2 separate regions of the Homo sapiens genome follow, and region 2 is linked to region 1. The links come from fine-mapping of genetic effects on gene expression. A gene starts in region 1. The other region holds a variant in brackets. All regions are shown on one strand. Distances are between the middles of the regions.

What was found. PIP is the estimated chance that this variant, and not a neighbour inherited with it, causes the effect.
Region 2: its variant is fine-mapped to the expression of LINC02889 in testis (GTEx, PIP 0.95).

Annotation. Positions count from the first base shown.
Region 1 is chr7:17,555,199-17,563,620 of GRCh38, forward strand. LINC02889 (long intergenic non-protein coding RNA 2889) reads right to left here and starts at 3,711. Exons shown (of 4, transcript NR_110013.1): 1 at 3,554-3,711.
Region 2 is chr7:17,441,929-17,450,350 of GRCh38, forward strand. The region is part of intron 1 of LINC02888 (long intergenic non-protein coding RNA 2888); the gene reads left to right. The region is part of intron 4 of LOC105375172 (a long non-coding RNA gene); the gene reads right to left. Among named protein-coding and RNA genes, the nearest start is that of LINC02888, 71 kb to the left of the region's middle. The variant C/T (reference allele first, on the strand shown) is at 4,894.

The sequences.
Region 1 (8,422 bases):
GCTTTAGCCAACTGCTCTGACTTGACACATTGCTACTGTTTATTCGCAGCTGGACCTCTGGCCAGCTAAGTAGACTATGTTCACTTTTTCAGAATAAATCAAGATGCATTATAGCACATGAAAAGATAAAAATTGCCAAAGGAAGCATTTAGCAAAAGAAAAACAGGCATTTATTGATCTCCTTCCAAGAGTCTGCCCATCTAACCCTGTTTCTCGGTTTTATGAACACTCACGCAGCCTTGGCAAAAAGAAAAGGTGATGCTCAAGAGTACCTTGCTGCATACTTCCCAACTTTAATTCAGGTGCCACGGGCCTTAGATAGAAATCTCCCAGCTCAGAGCAGAACAATGATTCTACTCAAACCACTTGTCCTCTCACCAAGAGTACAGGCCTACTCTACCTCATGCACAAAGGATGGGCTCTGTTTTGCTACAGGTGGTTCTGGTAAATAGGATCAAAATGACTGCTTTATTATCAATCAAACCACATAAAGTTGGGTCAGGGCAGAAAGGACTGGACACCAGTTCTGGATATAACTGACTCATTTAGCAGTATGCCTCTAAAATCCTTTCCCAGGCAACCCAACCCACCCACCTTGGTTCATAAACTGCCTGTGCCATATCTGGCCTCTGGTTTCCCCTCACAAATACTATTTTCCAAACTTACATCTGTTTATTTCTTCTTTACCGCTGCCATGTCCCTTAAATATTTTTCTCATGTCTAAAAACTCCAGAAAAAAATCATTAGCTAAAATTAACTAAGCATATCAATGGTTTTGAATATAGGCAATGTTTGTATTCCTGTGTTATAAATCGGGAATCTCAGGTTCAGGTAATTTAAGTAGCCAAAGGTCATACAAGTGAAGGTCAGTGCTCAAATATGAATTTGGGGCTCTTATTTGAACCCCTCTTACTTTCCATTAGGCCATGCTGCTGCTAGTAGCGGTAAAGGAAGGACACAAGGCATAACAGTCTATGAGGCCAAAGGCAGTAAGAAACAGTGTGGAATTGTGTGTGGCACATAGTAGGTACTCGTGCTGAAAACAACATTGAGTTACTCAATGAATATACAATTGATTCCCAGATTCCATGGGCTTCAAACTCATTTCTACAATCCATGATTTCCTATTTCTTCTCCATGCTAAGCAGAGCCTGCTGCCATATGGTAACTTTGCCAGTAACAGTCTAGCTGCTTCTAACCAGGGCCTGCTTTCCCTTGGCTTTAGCACTCAAAGGTCAACTTGACCTTGCAGGGAAAGTGAGCAGGGAGCAAGCACCTCTGAGGACACGGCAGACAGCTGCAGTGTGGCTTTGACATTTACAAGAAATGAAAGCATCTCTATTTAGAAAACTTTTTTAAAGATACAGAAAAAGTAAGTCTAAAAATAGCCAAGATCTAAAGTTCCCCAAATAATTAATATCATGTCCCCATAACCTAAAGGATTCTCTTGATTTCAGTGGAAAAAAACTCTGCTTTTAAGTTTGAGAGACCTTTTTTCTTGCAGAAAACTGGGCAACATATTGTCTGATTGGGTAACTTCTTTGAAGCCTGCCTTTATTAGGAGTTAGCTGCTAGTCTGCTCTTCCTTGGATCTCAAATATTTTGGTTAAAAAAAGCAGTATTTTTAGTATTGCTGATTTATAGTTATCAAAAGGCTATGATTGCAGATCATGCACAGTGCATCCATCTGGGCAATTATCTTTTGGTTCTAATGGTTAGAACTGTGGCAGTTTCTGAGGTGTTAGAGTTCAGGTTCAATTCAAAGCATCAATGATGCTCTTCATACTAGACCAGGATCTGCCTCTGTAAGACAGACTCAATTCCCTTCTCTTCTTTTTTTGCAACAACCACAGCCATTACCCCAGCCTCAAATTCATATCCATTGGTTCAGAAGCCCTAAGGAAGGGCATTGATTTCAGAGAGGAAGCCCAACATGTGCAGGATTTTTTGCCCTGGATCCAGTGATATCTTTGAGAATCAGAAACACTTATTCTAATGTATTTTAATTTACTTTTCAAATGGAGCATTTAAACAAAAACTGTTTATTGGGTTCAAATTCAGAGCCAAGTTGTGTGTCGAGAGAGTCTTAATTTTTCATAACAGGACATGTTTGGCTCTAATGTGTGGGTTATGAGTCAATATATCAAATTTGACTAAAGTATTTGCTCTAAGTAGGGAGCAAGCCATTTAGCATTACAAATCCTGAACTTTTTGCAGGAAGGAGGGAAATAACTTTGATTTCTAAGCTCTCTTATTAAGATGAATCAAAGTTGATGAATAAACTTTCTGGATTGCTTAATACCTTCCAGATATCAGTATCAAGGCCTTGGCAAGGCAGGTGAAAATATTTCCATGAGCAAGAAGCAATTGAGAAGGACTTCCTCTGTGGGATAAATTCTTGGTAATTCCTGTGGGAAATTTTCCTTTATCCTAACATCTTTTTTTTTTTTTTTGCCTTGCCCAATTCTCAGTGTTTTTAAATACACAAAATACGGCTTTCTACTAAAAACTGGTAAATGAAGTTGGAAAAATACAAACACACACACACACACACACACACACACACACACACACACACGGTAGCCCTTTTATTGCAGCCATGTACGTAGCTTCGCTGAAGAGTTGACAAGATATATTGTGCAGCCACAGAGAGACACCACATCTTCCTTCCTCCCAGCACAACTTGTACAGTGATTAAATGTGATTAAAGTCTCAGGAACTTGGACACAGTCATATCTATTTTGGTACCACTGTCTTGATCCATCCCTACAGCCAGAAGGGAATCACCCTCTTTGTGTAAATGTTTGCTTTGTTGGAAATTCTCAAGCAGAAATTAATAGTATACATGCTTCAGGAGGAGTAGTAAATCAAGCATGATAAACAACTCCTAGGCAGTGTTTAGACTGGCCAAAAGTCATCTTAAGAATCGTGCACAATGATAGAATACCACGTTTGGCATCTATACACCAGAACTATCTATAAACAAAAAGCAAAATGGAGATCTGTCAATTAACCAACTAGTCTGATTAATGGGATCTGTCAGCATAGGTGGATAATAAATGACTAGAAAAGTAGCAAGTCTCCACTCATTCTATGTGGTGTAGACACAGTTAAATGAATCATGAATGTTTAGTGCTCTTTATAGCAGTTAGCGAACACACTTGGAACTTGTCTCGAAATTAGTTTTGATCTCTTGTTTGAAGTCAGATGCCAATATTCTAGACCCCTATGACATCATCTATTACAGACTCCTGGTTATCGAAGAGTTGAAACTAGTCAGATAGAATTGGCATGAAAAGAATTTTCAACAGAAAACAATCATGTTCAAGGAAGCCAAGTCTAGGATTTCAGGAGCTCAAAGTTTCAAATATTTTTATAAAAACATACATACATACACACACATACATACATTCATGTGGAGAGAGAAAATGAAAAGCAAGAAGACCTTTTCTTCCTTAGTCCAAATCCAATTTAATAATTATCCAGGGTATTCTCAGTAAAAACCAGGTATTTATGCCTCTATATGTATGTCACCAAAATGGAGCCAGCTTACCTGAAGGTCCTCTGAGGCTGTCACTTTCCTCTAGTGCTGTCCCATAAACCTGAAGGATATACAATAACAAAGGGGACAATTCCGTGGGACGAAAATCTTATTTTAAATAACTTCTCTATACTGACTTCAAGCCAAATGAAAAAACTACAGCTTTTTTGGAATTTTATTCCATTTCTGTTGTCTGATTCATAAGTGTTGTTAAATATTTACCAGGAACCTGCCAACAGTTTCTCAACATTAGTTAATCATAGGTAATGCTATTCCATTAACAACTCAATAAACTTCTTTAAAGTTGTACAAGGTAAATTTCAGTACCTTAACACTGCTAACCCATCCTTGTAGAATAAATATTTGCTTTGAGTTTCTCTATGCCAAGATTTATGGGATCAAGTAATCTAAATCTCCTTTTGTAAATAAGGTGTGCCCTCAAGAGGATGAGAGTGCAGACTCTACAGTCTTGTCTGCCTTCTCTCCACAGGTCCTTGAATAAAGCGTTCCATGTCTCCAGATAAACAGACTTGGGGCACTTCTGACCAGTATCCCAGCAGCAGAGGCTTTGGGAAATATTTTCAAGACGGTTCAAGCCTCCCTTCCACAGATTCTCTCACATCTGCCAGCCTGAAGTGGGCTGTGTTGGTTCATGTCTACCAGGACACTAAATGGCTGAAGGCCATTTTTTCTATTCTAATTATTGTTGCTTCTTTGTAACAATTTTTATAAAAGTCCAGCCTAATTTCTTTCCCAGCACACATGTATCTTCAGACACACATCTAAATCCAGGCTTTCATGATTAATCCTACTCTGAGTCAGCTGGGATAGAGCTCTGATGATGGGATATCCTACATGGTCATTAACTGCTGTTTGCACAAACACATCACTCAACGTGACTTCCACTGGATCTACCTTGTATGCAGAGTAGAAAGCTGCTTGTATGGAGTGACTTCTCTGTTGCCTGACCAACCACATGCAAAAATAACCTTTCCACTCACTGATACTGAATTCTACCAAAGAAGACAAGCCATCCAATCAACAACTCTCATAGTAAAGCACATGGCAAACATTATAACTGTATTACTGTATTATAAAACTGTATTATTAAAGTCTACTCTTACAGAATACTCGAGGAAATTAAAAAATGACAAATTCTCATTTATGTACACACCACTTATATCAGGTTCTTCTGGAGAATATATTCTGTTTGACGGAAGAGGAAGGAAGAGAGGATAAATTATGTTTATTGGAGAACTACCTAACCCAGACTTTGTACTAGGTGCTTTTTGAAAATTATCTCTTTAATTTCTGCAACCACAATAAGCCACAGATAACCCTGTCTTTGCTTCAGAGATGATTGTGCCCAGTCTCATAGGAGTTAAGCAATTTTTCCCAAGTCCTATAGCTGGTAAATAATCAGTTTAAGATTCAAGTAAATCATTTTATCAAAGCAACATTGAGGCAAGAAAGAAGAGTATGATATACAATTTTTAAAAGCCCAGACACCCACACATTTCCTGTAAGGAAAAAAATGTATTGATGTGTATGATAAAAATTAGGCCCTCAGCTCCTTGAAAAAGAATTGTTTGAGCCCCTGTAAATCTTTACCCAGTTAGTGTTCAAATAAATATTCCTGTAAAGATATCTTCAGGGTGAGAAAAGCCATAAACAAACTCCATTGTCATTTCCAGCATTTAAATCAGGACTAATCACAAGGAGCCAGTGTTAGCCCAATCCCCCTCACCTAGTTCCCCTCACTCTTTGCCAATACGCAGTTTTTAATCTGTTTCAGGAAGGAGTCCGAGGCGGTTTGGAAATACAAATTAACCTGAAACTACTTCCTAAGGCATTACCAGAAATCACGTTTTAGATGTCAAGATGACTTGCATTGTTCTAAACTTCCAGGCTGTGCCAATGGCCACAAAGGTAAATGGGGCATTGGGACAACCATGTGAAGGACTAAGTTGCAACATGAAGCAAGCACACTCTTCCGCATGAGTCACCTGAAAATGAAAAGAGAAGAATAGCTGGAAAAGATGATACTGTCTGACAACAGCATTTCAAATAAGACACAAAAAACTTGTCTGCATTTGCTTTCAGGTCATGAAATACCACATGAACTGAATGTTTGAGAACCCATTAGCTATGGATCACCCTGATTCAACAACCCAATTAATCATATTCTCAGGTCTATGGCATAATCAGTGTTTCTCAACCTACACTGCGTAATAAAATTACCTGAGGAAATTTTTGGCTTTTTGAGTGTTTTTATTTAAAAAGAAAAAAAAAATCAATGCCTGGACCCCAATACCAAAAATTTGGATTCATTGCTATAGGGTAGAGGCCAGGCACTAGTATTTTTAAAAAAGCTTTCCAGGTGATTCTAATGTGAGTCATGGTTGAGCACCACTGTTAGTTGTATGAAGTGGATTTAGAAATCTTATCCCTTAGACCCTTAGGGTTGCCAGAGCTGTCATGGCTATGAAACCTGCAAGAATTTGGGCAAGTTACTGGTCCCTGAGACTGTTTCCAAATCTCCAAAGTGAAAGCCAGAACACCTTTTAGGCACATGCTTTATCATGGAGGCCTGACGATCATGGTTTCAAAATAAATATCTGTGAACCTAGATACTTTATTTTCCTTCAATCATTTTTGATTCATATGTCTTTAGAATGTACACTGAAATGTAAATTGTATGTGAATATATCTTCCACATGTAACAGCATTACTTCTTTTGACTATGTAACTTAAATTATGTTTTCAGGATGCCAAAACAATTGGCTCAAAAGTAGGAAAATATTGTTACCTAATATTTGCTGCGTCTCTATATCCCTAAGTTAGAAAAACAGCACGTTTTGATTTTATGTTTGTTGATTTTATTCTATTTAAAAAAGACCAGCTACCCCATATTTAGAGGCTCCTACTTCATATCAAGACTCAAGTTGCAAGTCTTGGAAACAAAATAAAACCCCAAACTTAGTGCTTTAGACTTTTTATACATCCTACCCTATGTTACTGAGAAATTTGTTGTTGTGAGAAGGAAGACTTTAACTTGCATATGTACATATACATGCAAGTATGCTAGCATGATTCCTGAAACAAAGTGTTTACTAGATATTTATTAAGATTGTTTTTAAATATGAACTTCAACATCTTGATTGAATGATGAAACATGGACATATGAATCAAACTTTGGTATCTGCTCACTATCAAATGCTATAGAATCAAGAAAGTGAGAGCAACAATATTTCCTGTGCAACACACTACACACCTTAAATTTGGAAATATCTTTTGCTTTCATGAAAGTTTTATGATAATTCCTATTTACAAATTTTGAGGGGTGGTTTATAATTCTACTGTATTCTGTATCTGTAATCAAATCTTTGACAAATCAGTTGAATTTTCCCCCACAAACATAAAAGACACAGAATCAATAAATAAAAATACTAAGATACTTCACACAGCATCTTTTGACATTTGTAAAGAATTTTAGAGTACAAAGTAATTCTCTTTTAGTGAATGCATGGATTATACTATTATATAGAAGAGCACTACTTAGATCATAGTAGAGAAGGATATATCTACGACCCTATGAGACTGATGCTGCTAGTTGTTGCCAATATTTACCCTCACACTTCATTCCTTGGGGTAGCAATGTGCCCTGGCACAGGTGATAGAGTATGACTAGACTGACCAAGTCATAATTTTGTTCCTTATTTCCCAGTCTCCCTTGCAGCCAGGTATAGTTATGTGGTCCAGTCCTGGCTATGAGAAGTACAGGGAAGTCTCCTGGTAGGCTTCTGTCATTGTGCTTTCCTGACAAAAGGAGATAGGCACAAGAGGCATAGCCCATTCCCTCCAGCTTCCTGCTTAATGAGGCATCCTGTAATTAACTGAAGTTTCAGAAGCTATCTTGTGACCATAGGCAGCAATCCTAAGGATAAAAGACAACAAAACAAGGACAATTGGACTAAAAGATAAAAAGATCCTGGATCTTTGATGGAAGCATCAGGGAGCTAAATCAATGCCAGCAAACACCTACTCTGGACTTCCTATTATATGAGAAAAGTAAACTACTTAGGAGAAAATCATAATCCCCATGTCTGAAAGAGATTTTAAAGCATGTATTTTCTCACAAATCACCACTAAAGAACTTACTCATGTAACTAAATACAACCTGTACCCCAATAACTTATGGAAATATAGAATAAATAAATTTCATATGGGATCAAAGAAGACCCTGTAGAGCCAAGACAATCCTAAGCAAAAAGAATAAAGCTGGAGGCATCACGCTACCTGACTTCAAACTATACTACAAGGCTACAGTAACCAAAGCAGCATGGTACTGGTACCAAAACAGACCCATAGACCAACGGAACAGAACAGACCCCAGAAATAACACCACACATCTACAACTATCTCATCTTTGACAAACCTGACAAAAGCAATGCGGAAAGGCTCTTCTACTCAATAAATGGTACTGGGAAAACAGGCTAGCCATATGCAGAAAACAGAAACTGGACCCTTTCCTTACACCTTATGCAAAAATTAACTCAAGATGGATTAAAGACAAGTGTAAAACCCCAAACCATAAAAACCCTAGAAGAAAACCTAGGCAATACCATTCAGGACATAGGCATGGGGAAAGACTTCATCTCTAAAATACTAAAAGCAATTGTAAAGAAAGCTGAAATTGACAAATGGGATCTAATTAAACCAAAGAGCTTCTTCTGCACAGCGAAACAAACTATCATCAGAGTGAACAGGAAACCTACAGAATGGGAGAAAATGTTTGCAATCTACTCATCAGACAAAAATCCAGAATTTACAAGGAACTTAAACAAATTTACAAGAAAAAAGCAAACAACCTCATCAAAA
Region 2 (8,422 bases), 110 kb before region 1:
ACATGTATATTGTAAAAAATATAATTTACTACCAATACATCAAGGAAAGTGACCAAAAAGAGTTTTACTCTAGAAATGTTTGAAATGTAAATTGAAGACACTTAGCTAATTTTTTAGTGGTAACTTTGATAAAATAGGCTTAGGCATGGTTCAGACATGTTAAGATATTTTAAGAAATGTGGTTTAAAACATGCAACTTTTATTTTGCCTTCTATTTAATGCTACCTAGGGTTTCATGCTTAACTGCCCCTTCCTAGAGCTATGCTATTTCATAGAAGCCCTCCACTTGAGAATACATCTGATCAAAACCTCCAAACACTTCAGGTTTTCTCTAATTTTAATTTTTTTTTTTTTTTTTTTTTTTGGAGATGGAGTCTTGCTCCGTCACCCAGGCTGGAGTGCAGTGGCTTGATCTCTGCTCACTGCAAGCTTCACCTACTGGGCTCATGCCATTCTCCTGCCTCAGCCTCCCAAGTAGCTGGGACTACAGGCACCCGCCACCATGCCCGGCTAAGTTTTTTGTATTTTTAGTAGAGACAGAGTTTCACCTTGTTAGCCAGGATGGTCTCAATCTCCTGACCTCGTGATCCACCCACCTCAGCCTCCCAAAGTGCTGGGATTACAGGCATGAGCCACTGCGCCCAGCCCCTGTTATCTGTTTCTTCAAAGAAACATTCAACAGCATCATGAATGCTCTTAAATTTTTTCAGTGTATCAGGAAAACAAGGGAAAGCTTATTACAATATGATGCTAAAAATTCAGATTGTAATGTTGACAAAAAAAAGCCTACCATGACCTACAGTAGGCATGAGAAAAGACAAGGAACCAAAAAATCACTTTCTTCTCTTACACTAATCCTTGCAAACAAGTTAACACAGAAACAGCTTTAAGTTTAACAAAAGTAAATGACAAAACAAGCAATTGTAAGGTGTGTGTGTATATATAGGTATATATATCTTGCAATTGCCTGTGTCTATACCTATCTATATATATACATACCTATTCCCCTACATATATAGCCATATATATATTATATATATATATGTATTTTTTTTAACATATTTGGGATTTCAAAAGTTTGGGAGAGTATATATTTTATATATACACACACATACAGAAAATATATATATATAGAATATAATATATTCTAATCCCAAATATTTAAATGCTTTGCCTATCTTGCATGAGCAAAGGGATAAAAATGCCTTCTCTTTGGAGTCCTAGAGACCATGTCTCCAACTTTCATGTCCTGATGGGATGATGTCCTTCCACTCCTGTAAGAACCCTAGCTCTGGCACAACCTCAGCTGTGTATGCTTCCCTCCGTTTCTTTGAAATTTTGGCTTTCACACAGATCCCTGTAAACTTCAAAGGAAAAGGACAATCTTCCTACTTAACCAACTATTTGTCCATCTGTCCATCCTATGCCTGCCTTCTTTCTCCTCTTTGTTTTCCATCAACATGACCATACATTGAACACCTACAATATGCCAAGCGTTGCACTAGGTGTTTACAACATGCAGTCTGTTTTCCATGCTATCATCTTAAATACTCTTATTTAGCCCTCTCTCCTGAGGAGTACTGCCTTTAGTTTCCATGTCATTAGAAGCCTTTCTCTACCTCATCAAGCTCATCATACCCCAGAGTAAGATGGAGGTGAAAGAGTGTGGCATAGTAGAAAGAGCATGAACTCTGAGAGAATTATCCTTAGGCTTAAGCCTTGGCTTCTCTATTTCCTACCCATGTGTCCTTGGATGAGTTATTACTCTCTTTCAGCCTCAGTTTTCTCATCTACTATCTATCTGAGGGTAACAATACTTCAGAGCTGCTAGAGGAATTCAATGAAATAACATGTAAATTTCCTTAAAATATGCCCACAGCATGGGAAGCATTTAATGAATAGTAGCAATTCTAATATCTAAGTGATAGCTGCCAATTCATTAGATATGGGCATGTTCAGAATGGTCCATTGACTTATACTTGCCCCATTATGTATATATGAGGACAATAAAAAGTTGCCCAGTTGATTTTTTATTGCCCTCTTATATGTACATGCATTATGTAGACAGCCTGCTCAATGGGTATTTATTATAATAATGAAGTACACAGTCTAATGTTTCTCTTCATTTGTATAAGCTTTAAGAAAGCCCTGTTTTTTCAGCTTTTTTGGTACATAAATTCATGGCAGTTTGGTTATAATCCCCATCGTTTTGTTTGATTTTCCCTGCATTTCTTAAATTAAGAAATATCCATATATTGAGATTAGCTGTAACTAACTCATGGTGTTCCTTCCTTTTGCCATTTCCTCCCTTTCCATCTTCTTGTAATTTAAACTTTCCACATCCTAGAGTGAGAAATATGAGTCCCCAGTTTTTCCACAGCTTCAATAAGCAGGCTGGAAAATGTTTTAATGGACTGCTAGAACCAATGACTATTAGTGGCTTTCCCCCATCTTCCTGAAGGTTTTCCTGTCCAACCCTTCTCTCCCTTTCATGTCCTCCACATCTTATCAGTTGTAATGAATTGAACCCGTAGTAGCAGCGCTAGAAGAGCTGTTTCTTAGTTTAAATGGTAGTCATACTATTTTGCAACTAAAATTAATTTTATACTCTTTTAATGAATTCTTTATTTTCCTGTTCTGTTTATTTTGAAATGAAAACTCCTAAAATATTTTTCTCTGTACACCTAGTTGTACCCAGAGGAGACAAGAGATCTAGAAATATCCTTAATGCGTACCTGAATATTCTTTCTATCCCAATATGTACCCAGTTTTTAAAACATTTTTCCCATATGTAAGTGTTATTCAAAAGTTTTCCTAGAAAAGTCATATTCTGGGCATGCTATGTTTTTGCTGAAGTGTCTAGGCTTTGTTTTTGTCCTGTCGGGGATATGACTTGTGAGTTTTCCTTTATCTGTGAGAGAAAGTTGACCTTTTGTGCTAATTCCATTTCCTGGTGAGTCAGCCTTCTTTCTTTTGGGCTTGCCTATTGCTCAGTGCCAACTCTTACATTCCACTAATTCAGCACCTGTCCCTTCTTAAACAGGTTGTTCAAACCCCCATGCTAGCCCCATCTTTGACCCAGTGACTTCTTTGGGTGGCCAGTTATTTAATTTTTCAAAGCCTCTGTTTTGACATGTGAAAAAAAATAAAAATAACATTATCCTAGCAGGGCATATTAAATAATGCAAATGAGGGTAGCTACCAATGATAAATTTTACTAGGAAGGAGGTAATGCTGAAATAATGAGAATTTATCTTATCATAAAAATTTAACTTGTGGGCAGCTCCAAATAAGTAGCAATTTCCCTTTTCTTACTATTTTCCTCCAGGAATTTGGGCTGAAATTATTCAGGATCCATTTTCCTTCACGTATTTCCATTTCAAAAATGGTAGAATGGAAAGGAATAGAAGTAAATTTGAAGGATTTTCAAAGCTTACTTAGGAGTTTGGCATGGAGAGGGGAAAGCTGTCACAGCTATTGATGAATTTATTCAGTAACTACTGAGTGCCTACTCAGTGCTGCATCACTGTTTCTATATGGAAAGGAACTATCCCTCTGGGACAGTGTTTCCTTAGTGGGGTTAGCAGTCCAAGGAGCAAAGCATATGTGTGTTTCTATAAGCAATGGAAAAAGGATACTCCAAGAATCCTATATATGTAGCTGTTTGCTGATTCCAAGAGGGCAGCTAAGACTTTTTGGAAATAGGAATAGGAATCAACCTAGCACAATGCTTTGCATGTTGTAGGTGTTCAATATGTGGTCATATTGAGGGAAAAAAAGGAGAAAGAAGACAGGCATAGGATGGACAGATGGACAGATGATTAGTTAAGTAGGAAGATTCTCCCTTAAAGATATGTCTCTACTCTGCCAATCTTTGTTAAAAAAAGAAAAAAAGAAAAGAAGATATTTAAAAGTAGAGAGTTTATATGAAGTCTAATTAGAAGGTCTTGTTACACTCTGAAAGAGTGCCAGAATATCAGAATATGAACCACAAGATCATTATTTTCTTTTTCTTAACTTTTTTTTTTTCGTTTTTGTTTTTCTTTTTCTTTTTCTTTTTTTTTTGAGATGGAGTCTTGCATTGTTGCCCAGGCTGGAGTGCAGTGGTGCAATCTTGGCTCACTGCAACCTCCACCTCCCAGGTTCAAGAAATTCTCCTGCCTCAGCCTCCCTAGTAGCTTGGATTACAGGTGCAACCACCATGCCCAGTTAATTTTTGTATTCTTAGTAGAGATAAGGTTTCACCATGGTGGCCAGGCTGGTCTTGAACTCCTGACCTTAGGCGATCTGCCTACCTTGGCCTCCCAGAGTGCTGAGACTGAATTTTATTGAAAGCCGTTTCTGCATTTATTGAGGTAATCATGTGTTTTTCATCTTTAGTTCTGTTTATGTGATGAATTACATTTATTGATTTGCATATGTTAAACCAACTTTGCATCCCAGAGATGAAGCCTACTTGACTGTTGTGGATTAGCTTTTAGGTATGCTGCTGGATTCGGCTTGCACGTATTTTGTTGAGAATGTTTGCATCAATGTTCAGCAAGGATATTGGCCTGATGTTTTTTTTTGTTGTGTCTCTGCCAAGTTTTGGTATCAAGATAATGCTGGCTTCATAGAATGAGTGGGGGAGGAGTCCTCGCCCTGCAACCGACCCAGTTTTTTTGGAATAGTTTCTGTAGGAATGGTATGAACTCTTCTTTGTACATCTGGTAGAATTTGGCTGTGAATCCATCAGGCTCTGGGCTTTTGTTTTTTGTTTTTTTTTTTTTTTTTTTGGTTGGTTGGTAGGCTATTTATTATTGATTCAATTTTGGAGCTCATTATTGGTCTGTTCAGGAAACCAATTTCTTCCTGGCTCAGTCTTGGGAGGGTGTATATGTCCAGGAATCTGTC[C/T]ATCTCTTCTAGGTTTTCTAGTTTGTGTGTGGAGAGGTCTCTATAGTAGTTTCTGATGGTTGTTTTCATTTCTGTGGGGTCAGTGATATCTCTTTCATCATTTCTAATTGTCTTAATTTTTTTATTAGTCTATTTAGTGGCCTATCTACTTTAATTTTTTTTTAAAAAACAACTCCTAGATTTGTTGATTTTTTAAATGGTTTGTCTCTGAATTTCCTTCAGTTCAGCTCTGATTTTTGTTATTTCTTGTCTTCTGCTAGCTTTGGGGTTGACTTATCCTTGCTTCTTTAATTCTTTCCATTTAATTTAGGTTGTTAGTTTGAGATCTTTCTAACTTCTTGATGTGGGCATTTAGTGCTATGAATTTCCCTCTCCACACTTTCTTAGCTGTGTCCCAGAGATTCTGGTATGTTGTATCTTTATTTTCATGATATTCAAAGAACTTCTTGATTTCTGCCTTAATTTCATTATTTACCCAAAAGTCATTCAGAAGCATATTGTTTAATTTTCATGTAATTGCATGGTTTTGAGCGATTTTCATAGTCTTGACTTCTATTTTTATTGTACTGTTGTCCGAGAGAGTGTTTGGTATGATTTTGATTCTTTTTACATTTGCCGAGGATTGTTTTATGTTTAATTATGTGGCCAATTTTAGAGTATGTGTCATGTGGTGATGAGAGAGTGTATATTCTGTTACTTTCCAGTGGAGAGTTCTTTAAAGGTCTATCAGATCCATTGGTACAATGTTGAGTTTAGGTTCTAAATATCTATTAATTTTATGCCTTGATGATCTAATATTGTCAGTGGAATGTTAGACTCCCACAGAATAATAGTGGGAGACTTTATGTCTCTTTGTATAGTAGGTCTCTAAGAACTTGCTTTATGAATCTGGGTGCTCCTGTTTGGTGCATATATATTTAGGACAACTATGTCTCTTAGTAGAATTGAACCCTTTACCATTATATACTTTGTCTTTATCTTTGTTAGTTTGAAATCTGTTTTGTCTGAAATTAGAATTGTAACCCCTGCTTTTTGCCGTTTTCCATTTGCTTGGTATGTTTTCCTCCATCCCCTTTATTTTGAGCTTATGAGTGTCATTACACATGAGATGGGTCTCTTGAAGACAGCATACCATTGGATCTTGCTTTTTTATCCAGCTTGCCACTCTGTGCCTCTTAAATTGAGCATTTAACCCACTTACATTCAAGGCCAGTATTGATAAGTGTGGATTTGATCCTGTCTTTGTGCTGTTAATTGGTTATTATGGTGGCTTGTTTGCTTTACAGTGACACTGGTCTGTGTGTCTTTGTATGAGCTGGTAGCAGTCTTTCCTTTCTATATTTAGTGTTATTTTCAAGATCTCTTGTAAGGCAGGTCTGGTGGTAATGAATTCCCCCAACATTTGCTTATCTGGAAAGGATCTTATTTCTTCACTGAGGAAGCTTAGTTTGGCTGGATATGAAATTCTTGAAGATGATGTTTTTCTTTAAGAATGTTGAGTATAGGCCCCCACTCTCTTCTGGGTTGTAGGGTTTTAGCTGAGAGTTGCACTGTCTGATGGGGTTCCCTTTGTAGGTGACCTGCCCTTTCTCTCTAGCTGCCTTTAACATTCTTTTATTTTGACCTTGGAAAATCTGACAATTATGTGTTTTGGGCATGATCTTCTTGTGGAGAATCTTGCAGGAGTTCTATTTCCTGATTTTGACTGTTTGCCTCTCTAGAAGGTTGGGGAAGTTTTCATAGATGATATCCTAAGATATGCTTTTCAACTTGTTTGCTTTCTCCCCATCCCTTATAGGGATGCCAGTGATTCATAGATTTGGCCTCTTTACATAATCCCATACTTCTCAGAGGTTTTGTTTATTCTTTTTCTTTTTTATTTATTTTTGTCTGACTGCTTCGTTTCAGAGAACCAGTCTTCAAGTTCTGAGATTCATTCCCCAGCTTGGTTTATTCTGCTGTTAATACTTGTGATTGCACTGTGAAAGTCTTGTATTGTGTTTTTCAGCTCTGTCAGACTTGTTAGGTTCTTTTTTATACTTGCTATTTCATTCTTTAGCTCCTGGAAAGAAGTCTATGGATTATACTCAACCTACACTCCAGTTAAAGGAACATCTACACACAGAGGTGAGAAAGAATGAATACAAAAACTTTGGTAACTCAAATGGTTAGAGTGTCATATGTTCTCCAAATGACTGCATCAGTTCTCCAACAAGAGTTCTTAACCTGGTTGAGATGACAGAAATATCATTCAGAATATGGATAAGAACATCATTGAGATTCAGGAGGGAAGCAAACTCCAATCCAAGGAGAATGAGAATCAAAATAAAGCAATACAGGAGAAGCTTTCAGTTGACCCAGGGTGCTCTGTCCAGGGAGTTGCCAAGTTGCCACGGGCTTGATAGCTCTGGTGGGGGATGGCTAGAGGCCCAGGCCTGAAAGACCTGGAGATATGGGATATGGGAACAAGCACCCATGTAGCAGTCTGGCCACTTTTCTGTAGGTCTGCTTCAGTATGCTTGGGGCCCCCTCCAATCCCTAGTCACATCAGATTTTCCAGTACCTGGAGGTATCACCAATGAAGGCTGTGAAGCAGCAAAATGGCAATCTGGCCCTCTCTCTGGGAGCTCTGACCCAGAGAGGTATGTGCCTGCTGCTGGCCCAAAGGCACCTGTAGGAGGTGGCTGGAGACCCCAGCTGGGAGATCCTGCCTAGTGAGGAGGAACAGGATCAGGGACCTGCTTTAAAAAGACGTCTGGCCACATTTTGGTAGAGCAGATATGCTTTGCTGGGCATTTGCTTCAGCCCCTGGTTGCCTAGACACTCCAAAGCCCGATGGCTGGAATGGCTAAGTCACCCAAACAGCAATGATGGTGGCCCACCCCCTCTGTGAGCTCCATCCCTGGGAAGTTACTAATCTCTGTTGGCCAGAGAACACCTTTAGGGGAGAGGTGGCTGGAGGCACCCCAGTTGGGAGGTCCTGTCCAGTGAAAAGGAATGAGATTGGGGACCTGCTTATAGTAGTAGTCTGGCCATGTTTGGTACAGCAGTTGTGCTGTGTTGGGGGATCCCTTCTGCCCGATTGGCCTGGATTCTGCAAAGCCTGAAGGCTGGAACAGCTAATGTACCTGAACAGTAAAGATGGAGGCCTGCCTGTCCCCCTGGGAGCTCTTCCTTAGGGAGTTACAATGCTGGTACCAGTGGCTGGCCAGAATTCTAAGCTGTGGGTCTTATCTTGTGAGGTAGCATGGACTTGGGGCCTGCAGGCTGTTGCTGCTCAGCCCCCTGAATTCAGCCTCTTTTCTATGGGTATGTACAGGGTTCTAACCTCCCACTTTGCTGGAGCTGCAGCTACTTTTGCTGGAAAGCCCAAGTATCTAAGGCTCCAGTGATTCCACGCATGTCTGAGTGGTTGCTCTGCCAAGACTCCATGTAGCTCTGTCAGACTGAAGTCCCTGGTAGACTGCGTTCACAAGGATATCTCCTGTCCCAAGGGTTGCAAAGATCTGTCAAAGAAGCATGGATTCCT